Regions from separate parts of the Homo sapiens genome. Here region 2 is linked to region 1. Evidence: fine-mapped expression QTL. A gene starts in region 1. The other region holds a variant in brackets. All regions are shown on one strand. Distances are from middle to middle.

Region 1 (8,490 bases):
GGCCTCCCAAAATGCTGGGATTACAGTGGGATTACAGCCACACCCAGGAGGATTTTCACATTTAAATGAAAATGAAAATGAAAACCGATACTCTCAAACACAAGTTAAAATTACAACACAACTCTGAATGAAACATTTAACCCATTATTACTTGGTAGATTCAATAAAATGAAGGAAAAAAATTATGGTGTCAGACTTCAGACTGACTTTTGAGACTGAATACATTTATTACAAACGAAGACCATTACAAGTGTTTATTTAGAATGATAATGTCTTGGCTTCTGCATACCATGTTTTCAAAAAATCTTTTTTAAAATAAGGCTTCATTTTAAAAACACTTAAAACAAGACAAACCCTTATTTTGGCAAATGTCAATTCTAGAATATCAACCTGAGTATCAGTGTATTTGGAAGAGAGTATAAAACAAAGGGTCAAGAATTTTGATAGAATAGTTTTTGAAAATAAAACTTGAAACATTACCATGGTATAAAGACTATTTCAAAATTACAATACTACTGTGCTTAAACAAGTAATTTGAAAGATAAATCTTTGAAAGAAAACATGAAAGCGTACATACCCTCATTTCTCCTATACAAGTTTATTTAAATACATTCAATGTATTTTCTCTTCTACCTAATTATTTCAGAAGTATCCTTTTCATAGGAATTTACTAAATATACCTTTTTTTTTTTTTTTTTTTTTTGAGACAGAGTCTCGCTCTGTCGCCCAGGCTGTAGTACAGTGGCGCAATCTTGGCTCACTGCAACCTGTGACTCCCAGGTTCAAGCAATTCTCCTGCCTCAGCCTCCCGAGTAGCTGGGACTACAGGAACCCCCCACCACGCCTGGCTAATTTTTTGCATTTTGTAGTAGAGATGGGGTTTCACCGTGTTAGCTAGGATGGTCTCGATCTCCTGACCTTGTGATCCGCCCACCTGGGTCTCCCAAAGTGCTGGGATTACAGGCATGAGCCACGGTGCCCGGCTAAATATAACATATAAATGACTTTTCAAAAAGAGCAGAAAGTTGAAAACACTTTCTCTAGGAAACCTTTCATTTTCTTTTTTCTTTTTCTTTTTTTTTTTTTTTTCAGACAGGATCTTCCTATGTTGCCCAGGCTGCTGTTGAACTCCTGGCCTCAAGCATTCCTCCCTCCTTGGCCTCCTAAAATATTGGGACTACAGGCGTGAGCCATGGCACCTGGCCCATTTTTCTTTTTAAACTTATTTCTATTTCCAAATAGCCATAAATCAAACAATGATATCGTGACCTGTAAAGTAAGAGCTTGAAATTCTCCTACTTTGCACTAGTAAAAGTAAAATCCAAGGCAAATCACTTAATTTCCCTGAACTTCAGTTTCTTCATATAACATGAAGATAAAACCTACCTTGCAAGATCGTGAGAGCTGAGGAAAACACATTGTGATGTGCCTTCTACTTTCATACTTAGGTGGTGAGAATGTAACTAAGCACAACCATTCTGAAAAACTGGCAAGACCTAGAAAGGCTGAACATGGCTGGGCGCAGTGGCACACGCCTGTAATCCCAGCAATTTGGGAGGCCAAGGCAGGTGGATCACTTGAGGCCAGGAGTTGAGACCAGCCTGGCCAACATGGGGAAACCCTGTCTCTACTAAAAATACAAAAATTAGCCAGGTGTGGTAGCACACACCTGTAGTCCCAGCTACTCAGGAGGCTGAGGAATGAGAATCACTTGAACCCAGGAGGTGGAGGTTGCAGTGAGCCGAGATTGCGCCACTGCACTCCAGCCTGGGTGACAGAGTGAGATTCTATCTCAAAAAAAAAAAAAAAAAAAAGCTGAACATATGAATACCTTATGGCCATCAATTCCACTCCTAGTACATATATTCTAGATAGACACTGTCCAATATGGTAGCCACTAGCACTTGAAATGTGGCTGGTGCAGTTGGGAACTGGGAATTTTAATTTAATTTTAATTAACTTAATCTCAAAACAGATGATCAAATCGTTATTAGAAAATATTAATGTGTCTTTGGAGGCCAGGAGCGGTGGCTCACGCCTGTAATCCCAGCACTTTGGGAGGCTGAGGCAGGTGGAACACCTGAGGTCAGGAGTTCAAGAAAAGCCTAACCAACATGGCAAAATCCCGTCTCTACTAAAAATAAAAAAATTAGCTGGGCATGGTAGCACATGCCTGTAGTTCCAGCTATTAGGGAGGGTGAGACAGAAGAATCACTTGAACCTGGGAGGTGAAGATTGCACTAAGCCGAGATCGCGCCACTGCACTCCAGCCTGGGCGACAGAGCGAGACTCTGTCTCAAAAAATATACAAATAAAATAAATAAATAAAAGTGTCTTTGGAACAATTTGGATATATGAATCTACTTTATCAACTGTAAATCTTATAAACATAATCACAGATCAAAGGTTTATATTTATGGAATATAAAAAATATATTTAAAATATTTTCTTAGAGACATCAAGCCTCTAGTCTTTAAAAAAAAACAAATTTTTTTTTTGAGATGGAGTATCACTCTGTCGCCAGGCTGGAGTGCAGTGGGTGGTGCAATGTCGGCTCACTGCAACCTCCGCCTCCCAGGTTCTAGTGATTCTCCTGCCTCAGCCTACCGAGTAGCTGGGATTACAGGCGTGCACCACCACACCCGGCTAATTTTTTGTACTTTTAGTAGAGACTGGGTTTCACCATGTTGGTCAGAATGGTCTCGATCTCTGGACCTCATTATCCGCCTGCCTCGGCCACCCAAAGTGTTGGGATTACAGGCGTGAGCCACCGTGCCCAGCCTAAGAAATATGTTTTTAAAAGAACCTTTATAGCCACATTGTTTATTCTCTCTCCCAACTGTAAACAACCCAAATGTCCAATAACAATAGAAGGGATTATGGTATAGTCACACTGTAGAATATTATACAACAAAAAACTACATGCAAAAGTGTGATTGAATCTCCACAAATATGGATAATGAGCAAGGGGTGAGTCAGAAAAAAATACACATGCACTCTGAACCCATTTATATAGATTGAAATGCCTAACAATTCATTTTTTAGGAATTCATCATAGACGGAAAAATTAAAGTAAAACAAGTGAGTGCTTAGCACAAGTCAGGATAATGGTTACCTCTTGGTGGAGGAGATGGAATCACAGAAACATACTGGGAGATTCTAAGGCAGTGTTTTTCAACCAATTTTTAACTATTGTCCCTGTAAGGAACCTTTCTAGACATTTTATTCCTAATCACACCCCCCGCCATGAAAATTTAACACTACATATATACTGTATAACTGTTTATATACTGTGGCCCTTTGGAGGGACACAAATCATTGTAGTAACTAAGATTCCGACCCCGGCCCCACCAATTTTCAACCCCTTGAAATGTAAAATCACCCCTGTTAAGACTGCATGTTCTAAGTTATTGGCAATGCTTTATTTTCTAATCTAAGAGGTGGATACAGGAGTGTCTGCTTCTGTTAGTTATAATTTTTTAAAATGTATGTTTTATACACCCTTCTGTATATATACTTGACAATAAAAAATAAAAATAGAAAAATTGACTTAAATTGTGCTGAGGACTGAAAAATGGTGGTTATTTCCGTTTCAGAGCAGCTCAAATAATAACAGTAAGGAAATTAGTTAAATAAAGAAAAAACATGCAACCAAAAATTTTAAAAGCTATCTATGTCTGAAGTGAATCTAAAAGTCTCATGAAGATCAACCTCCACTAAAGGAAGCTGGCTCTAAGAAAATGTGCTGGTATCCTTTCCCTAAGAAAGAAATAAGAAGATAATGCTACTTCCACTACATGCAATTTTAGTTTACCGAAGACTATCAAGTATATATCTTAACTTCCTCGTATTAAAAACTGTGATTATATGAATATTAGAACATAAAAAACAAATGAACTGTTATTACTTTTAGTGATGCTGTTCTTCTGCCTTTGCGATCCAAAGGCAAACAAAGACAATTTTGCGTGTGGCAGAAGCGGGAACAAGCACCTGGATTTAACAACTACAGTAATGATCACTGAATCCTCCAACCACCTCTTCCTACCCCAACTCTAAACTAGGACTTCATTAGTTCTCGCCTGCTAGTTCTTTGATCTCCCTCCCAGCCTCCCATCCTTCTCCATTTAGTCTCTCCTTTTCTGCACTCCCCAGAATAGAGTCTAGCTCTTAATCCTAATCAACGGGCCTCCCACCAACTCCCTAATTTACCTGACAGCAATCTGACCTCTCAGGACACTCAACTCTGCAACCGGAGCCAACCGGAAACGGAGGTTGTCACCTCGAGTTTCTCACGGCAGGAAAGCGGAGAAGCCGCTTAACGTTCCGATACTGGGTTAGAGATTCCTGAATCAGGTAGAGACTACATGAGGGACGCTGGAAGTCGATTATTTTCCCAGTATATGTGCATCCTCAATCTGACTGAGGTAACAGATACTGTAGAAAAGAGAAGGGCGGGGAAGATAATATGTTGTCCTTGCTTGGGGACGGAATCCTTAGACACCGCACACAGGGCGGGGCTGCCGGCATACTGCAGCCAATAAGGGAGGCTGTTGTTGAGAGCGTGTTCTCACCCAATGAGAGGGTTGGTTGTTGCGCTGCAGTTGGCAGGCTGCTGCGGGAGGCGGCGGCGGTAGGAAGCCGGAGACAGCAGGGTGACAGGTAGGCGGCGGTGCTGTCTTTGGGGGAGGCAAAGTGCTAGATGAAGAGGGGTTTTCTTCTCCTTCGGCCGCGGAAACTACAGACGGGAGCTGGCGAGGGTGGTCTGGAAAGGCGGTAGCCGGTGTGTTGGTGGTCCCGGAACCTCTCGTAAACCAGGTAGCATCTTGGGAGGGTCGTGAGGAGGAGAAGGCGGCAGCCGAGGCGGGTGGAAGCCGAGCCTTGTGGGGCGACGTGGGGGCCCACCTAGGGCGTGGGGGCTGCGGTGGCGCCAGCAGAGAGGGAGGAGAGGCGGGAGCAAGGCGGTGTCGTGAGGGCTGAAGGGATTCTTTGCACAAAGCCCCAGGCGAGAAAAGGACACGGCATTGAAGACAGTTAAGAGAAATCCCAGTGATTGCTTCTTAGGGCCATTTCCTGGGGGTGGTGAGGGGGAGCGGAGAAGAAAAATATTTACTGGCGGTCAGATTCTGAACACTCATTATTGCTGTACATTATGTAATCTTTGGCTGTTATTTACCCAAACAACTAGGTTGTCCCTCCTGGGAGAGGAGGTCTTGCAACCTATTAATGTGTTAGAACACTTTTTTCATTGGCTTGAGTGCCATTTACATTGGCAGGTTCTCTAGGCGAAGGGTGGTAGCATGGAGGATAGAGTAGTCACGAAGAGCTTATCCCAATTATGGACTTGACAGATACTAGTTTGCGATGAATGTGGCCAGGTTCATGTTTTGTAGTTCGTGAATTTATTTGAGGGTCAAGGCTGACAACATTTTTTAAAGATCTTCAGAAAAGTGGGGAATCCTTTAAAAATGTACAGTAGGAGCTCAGTGTAAGTTGGAAAATGACTAGAAAATTAGTTGGTAGATCCCTTCCTCCCCCCAGGATATTGTGGAAGTTAGGGACTGTGCAAATAAGGTGGTGGTCTGAATATGGGGAAAAAAATAAACTTTTTTTTTTTTTGAGACGGAGTTTCGCTGTTGTTGCCCAGGCTGGAGTGCAATGGCGCGATCTCGGCTCACAGCAACCTTCGCCTCCCGGGTTCAAGCCATTCTCCTGCCCCAGCCTCCGGAGTAGCTGGGATTACAGGCATGCGCCACCACGCCCGACTAATTTTGTATTTTTAGTAGATACGGGGTTTCTCCATGTTGGTCAGGCTGGTCTCGAACTCCGGACGTCAGATGATCCGCCCGCCTCGGCCTCCCAAAGTGCTGGGATTACAGGCGTGAGCCACCGTGCCCGGCAGAAAAAAGTCAACTTTTAAGTAGTTTGTTCTGTAAGCAAGTCTGAGAAGCTACTTATGAATTATTTATTAGGTTTAAAAAGTGGACTCTGAACCTCTCGGACAGAGGCAAAATATATTTATAGATATAATTAACTAAATTATCTTATTTAAAAAAATTTTATAATTCATTGTTTCCACAATAAAATGTAGAATTAAAATAGGAATTCTATTCAGTATGTGTTATGGAAGGGCAAACGACATAAAAACTTGATTTTGTAGGTCATTGAAAAACAATTTTGAGAGCAGCACTGGAAAATGATTTTAAAAGAAGTGTTATAAATTTCTAAAATGTAAGGTGTTTGAAATATTGCCTTTAGCTTAGGAGATAAGGTCTAATGTAGTGTCAGCAACTCTACAATTTTCCTAAATTTATTTCGGTACTGCATGTCAGAAAAACTTTATAAGATGTGATTTTTTTCTATTAATGGTAATTTATATTCCTATATATGAACCTAAATCAAAATTTCATTTTTTCTCAAAAATTTAATTGGGAAAGAGGTGCATCATTAAAGTTGTTTGTTCCCAGATGTTCTCAGTACTGAGACATTTGTCAGTGCTTTAGATAAAAATTTTTATTGATGTTTGGTGTTTTGTTCTTTGTCTTTTCTCCTTTTCCAAGAATAATGCAATCTCAGTCACAAAGAAAATTTCTGGTTCTATTTTAGGTGGAATTCTGTAGTGTTTTGAGTACCAGTTAAATCTTTGCTTTTATGCGTGTGTGTGTGTGTGTTGCTTTTATGCGTGTGTGTGTGTGTGTGTGTGTGTGTGTGTGTGTGTGTGTGTGTGTTTCTTCTTATGTAACCAGCCTACTAGAGCTGTCTTAGAGAACTAATGGCTGATTTTGAATGGCCAGTAGGTGTCATTGTAGAATGCAGTAAGTTGAGTATCGAGTAGGAAATTACCAAGTAGCTAAAGAAACACTAGTCCAAATTAGCATATAGTGTGGTTAGATGATCGTTTATACGTTATAGAAGTTCTCTCTGATGAAACATTTCAGTATTGGAGCTGTTTATAAGGAATTTGAAACAATGATTGTAAAGGAGTTTAATTGTTTGCCCTAAAATAGACCTTGAAAGTGTGTTTTTTAGCCCGGCCCTTTAACTGTCTTGACATGCAATTCAGATTTAAGTTTGATTATTTGCAATACAGTTTTGGCATCTTGTAGTAGTTTATTAAGTTCTAGAATGATTGAAATTTTCAGCTTGACTGAGTCTTATAGAAAAACCAATGCTACATAGTGAAAAACTGATAAAATATGGGCAGAAGTTTCAAAACTAGTTATCATACCAGTACTTTGTATTGTTCTTTTTTTTTCCCCTTAGAGATCCTTGTTCCGAGTTACTGTTCTTTTAAAGCCAGAACAGAAGATTTTTTTGTCTGTCATCGTCTGTGGCTTATTATCTTTTTTTTGATTTCCAGAATTGCTTCTTTTTACACTTTATCTGGTCAGTAGCCTATGTTCTTTTCTTGGGATGTGGAACTGAACATTTATCACTGACTAAAATGTAGTGGATTCTGGAGGGAGCCAGCACAGAAAGCTCTGAAAGTAGCTTACATCTGTTCCGAGTACAGCTCCTTACCTTCCTAGCCTTCTGTTGAGCCCTTGTCACTTTGTAGCTCTGCTCCTTAAGCCTGTGATAGATACAGTGTTTTGAAAAAGTTTGGACCTAATTTAAGAATTCTTCATGGAGTTGGAAATAGATACCTCAAAACAATTTAGGAGTTTTTAAAAAGGCATACACATATCACTTATATCATCTCCACTTCCCTTCAGAATTTTACGGATGGGAGGAGTGTGAAGGGGGTAGATGTATTTTGGAAACAAATTCCCTTGATTAATTTGGTTCACCACTGGCTTCCACTTCAGAGTGGAAGTGCCTTGGTCTAATTCAAGGCTCTAGCACTTGTGGTATGAAGCAGTAACAGTAGTTTCAGCTTTAGAGAAAGGGCTGCCAAATCTACTAATTTACTAATACTTTTATAGCTCAATAAATTGTCACCATTTCATGTCATAGCTAGGATAGCTTTTTTTTTTCTTTTTTTGAGACGTAGTTTCACTTTTGTTGCCCTGGCTGGAGTGCAGTGGCGCGATCTGGGCTCACAGCAACCTCTGCCTCCCGGGTTCAAGCCATTTTCCTGCCCCAGCCTCCGGAGTAGCTGGGATTACAGGCATGTGCCACCACGCCCGGCTAATTTTGCATTTTTTTTAGTAGAGACGGGATTTCTCCAAGTTGGTCAGGCTGGTCTCGAACTCCGGACGTCAGGTGATCCGCCTGCCTCGGCCTCCATAAGTGCTGGGATTACAGGTGTGAGCCACTGCACCCAGCCTGTCATAGCTAGGATAGTTTTTCTAGCCGGGAGCTGGAGTTGCCAGAAATGAAAATTGTGCTGAATGTTTTGGTTTGGATTAGTTCTTACTTGGCACTTAGCTGCTTTCCATAAATCAAACTAATTTATTTCATGATTCAGACCTGTGCTAATTTGTATAGACATTTATATCCTATTCTCTTACTGTCCCTGAAAGCTATCTAGTTCTAGAATTAAACTAAAAT
Region 2 (8,490 bases), 150 kb after region 1:
TGGGAGGCCAAGTTGAGTCCAGGAGTTCAAGACCAACCTGGGCAACTTAGTGAGACCCCGTCTCTACCAAAAAAACAATTAGCCAGGCATGGTGGTGTGCGCCTAGTTCCAGGTAATCGAGAGGCTGAGGTGGGAGGATTGCTTGAGTCCAGGAGTTGGAGGCTGCAGTGAGCTATGATTGTACCACTGCACTCTAGCCTAGGCAACAGAGTGAGACCCTCTAAAAATAATAATAATAATAATTGGATTTCTTTTCTTTTTAGATTCTTCTTTAGAACTCTTCCTTCTCATCCACAATTTGGATAGCCAGATGTTGAGAGGAGAGAAGAGCCAGCAAATCATTGGTCAGTTGTCATCTTTGCATAACATTTACCTTATAGCATCCATTGACCACCTCAATGCTCCTCTCAGTAAGTTAATTGTTACTATTTTTCCTTCTAGAGATATCAGTCTTACAAGACAAATTCTATTAATATAAATCAGAAAATTTTTACTGTTTTTAGTACGCTTTTTCCCCTTTTACATGTTTAAAAACACAGGTTGCCAAAAAGATGTTCTCAATCTAATTTAGAACATAATTTTTGGAAATAAAAATTCAGATACTAAATGAGGATGTTTTAGTCTAAAGTTAAATGGAGGGAAAAGACCCAACTATTATTTTGGTCTCTTTCTCTTCTTGTAATATCGCAACATTTATTTTATGAACTTAATTTATAGACTTTCTGATAATCCTGTAGAAGAAAATGTTAAAACATTACTAATTTTTTAAAAAGAATGCATTGGTAGTGCTAAGATTTTAATTTATGCTTAATTGAAAATAAAGGTTCAGATGTTGGTTGAAAATGAAATTAGATTGTGAGTTACTGATTTAGATATGGAAGTGGCAAAAATGAAAAACTTGGGGATTCATTTTTATTTAATCCTTTCTCATTCTTTTGTAAAGTGGAATCTAGTAACATGACAATATAAAAATAATTTGTAATTCTTGTTTTCTTTGATCATGTGCTAGTGTGGGATCATGCAAAGCAGAGTCTTTTTAACTGGCTCTGGTATGAAACTACTACATACAGTCCTTATACTGAAGAAACCTCCTATGAGAACTCTCTTCTGGTAAAGCAGTCTGGATCCCTGCCACTTAGCTCCCTTACTCATGTCTTACGAAGCCTTACCCCTAATGCAAGGTAAGGATGAAAACCATATTTCTTTTTTAAAAACTATACATTTTAAGATATGTACTACTAGGTTTTAATGGGGATACTGAAGTCCCTAGTTAGTTGAAGGATTAAGTGAAATTATAGTAATAATAGTTACCAGTACTGGATTATGGAGTAGGCAGACAAGTCAACAGTAGTCTATCAAATTGCCCAGTAATAAAGCGAGAATACCAACTTTTTATTTCTTTGATATTTCTGAATATGAGCACCTGACTGGTCATAATGGAGAAAAAGCAGACTTTTCATGACTTTTACTTAAATTTTATGGTTATTTTTCATTACATATTGAACATTCTGATCCAAACAGTGAGTACTTTATATGCATTACTTCATTTGATCCTAACTAAGGTGGATAGTCAGTGGCACAAAGACTTTGATCCAGATATGCCAGCTCCAAAACTCATGCTCTTAAACATCACTGTATAATGTCTCCAGTCAAGCCCTTACAGCAGCCTAACCTAGAGGCATATCTGAATTAATAAATGCAAGCTGGTTATAGCATAAGCCAGCAAAAAATAAATTGCATAATTAGCCGGACGCAGTGGCCTACACCTGTAATACCAGCACTTTGGGAGGCCAAGGCAGGTGGGTCACTTGAGGTCAGGAGTTCGAGACCAGCCTGGCCGACATGGGGAAACCCCATCTCTACCAAAAATACAAAAATTAGCCAGGTGTGGTGGCACGCACCTGTAGTCTCAGCTACTCAAGAGGCTGAGGCCGGAGAATTGCTTGAACCCAGGAGGCAGAGGTTGCAGTGAGCTGAGATTGCACCACTGCACTCCAGCCTGCGTGACAGAGCAATCTCTGTCTCAAAAAAATAATAAAGAAATTGCATAATTAGCCTGTTGAAAGAAGCTTTTAGTAACAAACTTTACCCCCTGACAAAAGCATAAAATTATAGAATTATATTTAACAAGATGAAGTGTTGAAAAATAACAAACCTTGCTGAGAATAGATAATTAAGAGCTGGATAGATGAAAAGAAATATTGTGTTCTTGGGTGGGTAGATTAAATATTATAAGAGTAGCAATTCTTTCCAAGTTAGAAATGTGTTAGACTTGCCAGGCACAGTGGCTCAAGCCTGTAATCCCAACACTATGCGAAGCTAAGGCAGGAGGATTGCTCCAGCTGGGACCTTGAGACCAGCCTGGGCAACATAGGGAGACTACATCTCTACAAAAAATTTTAAAAATTAATTGAGTGTGGTGGTGTACACCCATAGTCTCAGCTGAGGAGGCTGAAGGGAGCCGAGATTGCGCCACTGCACTCCAGCCTGGGTGATAGAGCAAGACCCTGTCTCCAGAAAAACAGGTATTAGATCTATAAATTAGTCAAAATGTAAATGAATTTTTTTGTTTTAAATTTGAAAGAAAATTTAGTTTCCTAAAGAATAAACAGTCAGCTGGGTGTGGTAGCTCACACCTGTAATCCCAGCACTTTGGGAGGCCGAAGCGGGTGGATCACTTGAAGTCAGGAGTTCGAGACTATCCTGGTCAACATGCTGAAACCCTGTCTCTACTAAAAACACAAAAATTAGCCGGACTTGGTGGCACACACCTGTAATCCCAGCTACTTGGGAGGCTGAAGTGGGAGAATCGCTTGAACCCAGGAGGCGGAGGTTGCAGTAAGCCAAGATCACGCCACTGCACTCCAGCCTGGGTGACAGAGTGAGCCTCTGTCTCAAAAAAAAAAAAAGAAAGAAGAAAAAAGAAAAAAAGAGGGAACAAGCAAGTCTAGCAGAGACAATTTCTTTTTTGTTTTTAAAGAGCAATGAAGGGACACTTGTGGTCAAGATGGCATAATACTTCTCACTCTTTCCTTTCATCCCCTCTTGTTCCAAACACACAGCATAATAGACAGAATTTAAAAATAAATACCCTGGCTCAAAATACAAACATCTCAATACAACAGAATGATAAATCAGTGAGCAGAGTTGAAGCCACAGCACAGCTGCATTCTTGGTTTAGAAGCAGCATTGGCAGCCAGGATATTGACTTATATGGGATGATAGTAGTGTGACGATATATATTGTCCAAACCAGATATTTTCGTTTAGGACAAATGCTGAACTGAACAGATGTTTGTTGTAGAAATAAAACCATATAAAATATATAGCATTCAAATGTATATATCAGTATGAATAAAAGTTTAAAATGTGCATGGAATTAGGTCTTTTTAGGTACTAAAAATAATAAAAAAAAATTAGGTACCAACCCTGGAGAAGAATAAAGGGGAATAGATAGAGGAGAGTGTACACAGGGACTTTGGGGATATCTTTTTTTTTTTTAACCCCCCCTAGCAATTTATTTTCCATTTATTTTTCTTTTACCTGTGTGTTTGTGGTGGAGGGATTAACTTTTTGTTGTGAGATGATTATAGATTCAGAAGAAGCTACAAAAATACATGCAGGGAAGTCTCATGTACCCTCCTCCCAAAGCACCAACTTCCACCAACCACCACCATCTCATATAAACACAGTACAGTATCAGAACCAAGAAATTGACATTGTTATAATCCCATCCATATTTGGATTTCACTATTATACATGCTGCACTCGTGTGTGTAAGTTCTGTGCAGTTTTGTCACTTGTAGCCTTGTATGACTGCCACCTCCATGTATACACTCAGCTGTACCATCACCACAAGACTCAAATGTTAACCCTCAAATGCTAATTTTAATGAATGTTGTTACTCTGTAAAGCTGATTTGAACACTGAAGATGAGATTAGCATTCAACTCGGCCAGGCATAGTGGCTCACCCCTATAATTCTACTACTTTGGGAGCCTGAGGAGGGAAGATTGCATGAGGCCAGGAGTTTGAGACGAACCTGGGCAACGTAGACCCCATCTCTACAAAAAGTAAAAATAAAGCCTTGCATTAATATTGGAATATGCAGGCTGGGCGCGGTGGCTCATGCTTGTAATCTCAGCACTTTGAGAGGCTGAAGCAGGCAGATCGTTTGAGGTCAGGAGTTCGAGACCAGCCTGGCCAACATGGTGAAACCGCATCTCTACTAAAAATTAAAAAATCAGCTGGGCATGGTGGTGCATGCCTGTAATCCCAACTACTTGGGAGGCTGAGGAGGGAGAATCGCTTGAACCCAGGAGGTAAAGGTTGCATTGAGCTAAGATCACACCACTGCACTCCAGCCTGTGCAACAGAGTGAGACTCTGTCTCAAAAAAAAAAAAAAAAAAA[G/AAG]GTGGGGCACAGTGGCTCACACCTGTAATCCCAGCACTTTGTGAGGCCAAGGCGGGCAGATCACGAGGTCAGGAGATCAAGACCATCCTGGCTAACATGGTGAAATCCCATCTCTACTAAAAAATTAGCCGGGCGTGGTGGCGGGCACCTGAGGTCCCAGCTGCTCAGGAGGCAGAGGCAGGAGAATGGCGTGAACCCAGGAGGCGGAGCTTGCAGTGAGCCGAGATCGCACCACTGCACTCCAGCCTGGGCGACAGAGCGAGACTCCGTCTCAAATAAAATAAAATAAAATAAAAAAATTGAAATAGGCATTAAATGGTTATCTAATGAAATTTTTTGATGGAATTGGGGACAAAGTCTTCATTCTGTTTTGTTATTACTAATAATAAAAGTCCTTAACTGCTGAAGGACTGTTGGAAGTTGCTGTGTGTAAAGTTGAGGGTCCATGCAGTGTGAGAACTCAAAACGTTAAATATGGCACTGGCTACGCTGATGCAAGTTTTTTTTTTGAGATGGAGACTCATGGTGTCGCCAAGGCTGGAGTGCAGTGGCAAGATCTCGGCTCACTGCAACCTCCCTCTCTGGGGTTTAAGGAATTTTCATGCCTCAGCATCCCACAAGTAGCGGGGACTAGAGGCATGCACCACCACACCTGGCTAATTTTTGTATTTTTAGTAGAGATGGAGTTTCACCATGTTGGGCAGGCTGGTCTTGAACTCTTGACCTCAAGTGATCCACCCACCTTGACCTCCCAAAGTGCTGGGATTACAGGCATGAGCCACCATGCCCAGTCTAATGCAAGTATTTTTTAGTTTGGCATGCCTAAATGTCTGTGTGCTAGCCTCAGCATTTTCTTATTTAAACTATTTTGAAATTTTGCTTGATTCTGCAAACTCCAGTATCATTTAGACTTTACTTGGTATGTGATTGAATAAAAATTTTAACCAAAATTCAGCTCTGGAGTTAGTAGTAGTACCTAGTTAAAAAGTAGTCATTGAGGGCCGGATGCGGTGGCTCACTCCTATAATCCTAGCACTTTGGGAGGCTGAAGTGGGCGGATCACTTGACGCCAGGAGTTCAGGACCAGCCTGGCCAACATGGTAAAACGTTGTGTCTACTAAAAATATAAAAAATTAGCTGGGCGTGGTGGTGTCCACCTGTAATCGCAACTACTCAGGAGTCTGAGGCATGAAAATCGCTTGAACCTGGGAGGCCAAGGTTGCAGTGAGCCAAGATCGCACCACTGCACTCCAACCTGGGCAACAGCGAGATTCTGTCTCAAAAAAAAAAAAGTGTTCATTGAGATGATCCAAAATATGATTATAGTAATTGTTTTCTGGACCTGCATAACAATGAAAATTCATATAAGTTTTGAATTTTTGGCATACCCAAGGACTGATGGGAGTCTTAGTTTGTGTAATACTGCTTCTAACCCCATAATTCTACTTGGTTCACTCTTCCATGGAATAATTCAAAATACAAAGAAATACGTACAGTTTTATTTAGTGCTGAGTTATTTTTTCTGTATCCAGTCATCCATTAAGAGTTATTTTTAATCTAAACTTAGAAATAATGTAAACATCCAAACCAATAGGGAAATGGTAAGTTTATGGTACATGGTAGATAAGCAGTTGTTAAAACTTCCTTAAGTTCTTCTTACATGTGGCAAAAAAAAAGAAAAGAAAAACTTGTTTAGGAGAAGTTTTAAAGACATGGGAAAAATCAGGCCGAGGCGGGTGGATCACCTGAGGTCGGGAGTTCAAGACCAGCCTGACCAACATGGCGAAACCCCGTCTCTACTAAAAATACAAAATTAGCTGGGGTGGTGGCACATGCCTATAATCCCAGCTACTCGGAGGCTGAGGCAGGAGAATCGCTTGAACCCGGGAGACAGAGGTTGCGGTGAGCCAAGATCGCGCCATTGCACTCCAGCCTGGGCAACAAGAGCGAAACTCTGTCTCAAAAAAAAAAAAAAAAAAAAAAAAAAAAAGACGTGGGAAGAATCAAAAAGTGAAGAAGCAAGGTATAAAGTGGTATATGCAGTATATAAATGTGTGAATTTCTGTTATTTCCACCCGCCTCATTGCACAAAGATTTGAGATAACAGCATACCCAGTATGATCTCAACACCAAGTGTTAATGGATATGGGATTGATATTTTTCTCTTTAGATGTTATTCTGTATTCCAGCTTTTCTACCAACACTAACCTAAAAAGTAAGAAAAAAATACTTTCATATTTTATTTTTTTGAGACAGGGTGTCTGTCACTCAAGTACAGCCTCAAGCTCCCAGGCTCAAGTGATCTTTGCACCTCAGCCTCCCGAGTAGCTGAGACCATAGGCGCATACCAGTATGCCTGGCTAATTTTTTAATTTTTTATAGAGACAGAGTCTCACTATATTGCCCAGGGTGGTCTCAAACTCCTGGGCTCAAGCAGTCCTCCCACCTCAGTCTCCCAAAGGGGTGAGATTATAGGTGTGAGGCACCACACTCAGCCTATATTTTTCTTTAGAAGAAATAAAAAAGCGGGCCGGGTACAGTGGCTCACGCCTGTAATCCCAGCACTTTGGGAGGCCGAGGCGGGCGGATCACGAGATCAGGAGATCGAGACCATCCTGGCTAACACGGTGAAACCCCATCTCTACTAAAAATACAAAAAATTTAGCCAGGCATGGTGGTGGGCACCTGTAGTCCCAGCTACTTGGGAGGCTGAGGCAGGAGAATGGCGTGAACCCGGGAGGCAGAGCTTGCAGTGAGCCAAGATCATGCCACTGCATTCCAGCCTGGGCAACAGAGCAAGACTCCGTCTCAAAAAAAAAAAAAAAAAAGAAATTAGAAAGCTTTCTGTTTAAGTAGGCAAGGATATGATATTCCTTGGAGGAACAGAAGATAATGCGGATAGGCCAACTACTTGACATTTTCTTTGTGTATTTTACTATTAGTTGTTACCTTTTGATGTTAACATTTTTGGATTTAAATTCCTGTTTTTTTTTTTTTTTAGGGGAATTTTCAGGCTACTAATAAAATACCAGCTGGACAACCAGGATAACCCTTCTTACATTGGTATCCAATATTTATGACATTCAATTGTGTAATTTTTGTTTTACCCTGTACATTTCCTGTCTCTGGAATTTAATGACAGCAGTGCAGTTTTTCACAGCAGTGAGTAAGTGGTCACTCATGATGGGTATGTCTGCCACATAGCAAATTTTCAAGCAGCTCTACAGATCCACTGCTGAGCAAGGTGTTTGCCAACACAAATTGAAAGACAAACCCAGCTTACTTTTAAAATTTTCTGTGCTAACTATGGATGTGTATCTGCCAAGTACATATTTTTCATATTCTAGGCATCTTAGGAGATTTTCTTCCCCTTTGGCAAAAATGATTTCAACAAACATTTTAATAATTGTTCTGCTCTCATGACTTACTTGTTCCTTCTTTAAAAGTCCTATCAATACTTGTTCACTGCTCTGGGATAACATGCAAATAGCACTTTTATTCTGTTCTTTTGTATGGGTGTTTGTATATTGGGTCATGTCTTAAGTGCTGACTTATGTTCATATCCTTTTGAACTTGCCAGGCCTTTCTTTTCAAGATTTTTACCAGCAGTGTCGGGAGGCATTCCTCGTCAATAGTGATCTGACACTCCGGGCCCAGTTAACTGAATTTAGGGACCACAAGCTTATAAGAACAAAGAAGGTAAGACTCCACTATTGTAGCATTGTATGCCAGGAATAGTCCGTATCATTTACTTAAGGACACATATATGTTTGACTTAGACCTGATTTTGAAACTGATGTTCCCTGTTGAGTCACAGAGATTCATTTAGGGGATGTGCCATTTGAGTTTGTAGAAAGAGCCATGGTAGAAGTACCCTGCTTCAGAGCAGAGCAGAAAACTCACATGTTCTAGTCCAGAGTAATAGGCAATTAGAAACATGGTGAGTCAAATAATTCTGTTCTTTTGTTTTTTCCCTCTTGCTCATTCATTAATTTGGTCTGTATTTATTGAGTACTAACTACATAGATATTGCACTAAGTATTAGGATACAGTAGTAAGCAAAAATCTGATTGCTTTTCTT

Evidence for each region. PIP is the estimated chance that this variant, and not a neighbour inherited with it, causes the effect.
Region 2: its variant is fine-mapped to the expression of NDUFB3 in whole blood (INTERVAL, PIP above 0.99).

Annotation. Positions count from the first base shown.
Region 1 is chr2:201,067,779-201,076,268 of GRCh38, reverse strand. NDUFB3 (NADH:ubiquinone oxidoreductase subunit B3) reads right to left here and starts at 4,268. Exons shown (of 3, transcript NM_002491.3): 1 at 4,210-4,268. HYCC2 (hyccin PI4KA lipid kinase complex subunit 2) reads left to right here and starts at 4,598. Exons shown (of 13, transcript NM_001321623.1): 1 at 4,598-4,659. RefSeq lists enhancers at 3,746-4,369, 4,506-4,595, 4,616-4,885, 4,370-4,995, 4,986-5,125.
Region 2 is chr2:200,912,913-200,921,402 of GRCh38, reverse strand. It overlaps ORC2 (origin recognition complex subunit 2), which reads left to right. Exons shown (of 18, transcript NM_006190.5): 14 at 264-410; 15 at 1,010-1,181; 16 at 7,411-7,472; 17 at 7,990-8,108. Among named protein-coding and RNA genes, the nearest start is that of NIF3L1, 28 kb to the right of the region's middle. The variant G/AAG (reference allele first, on the strand shown) is at 4,410.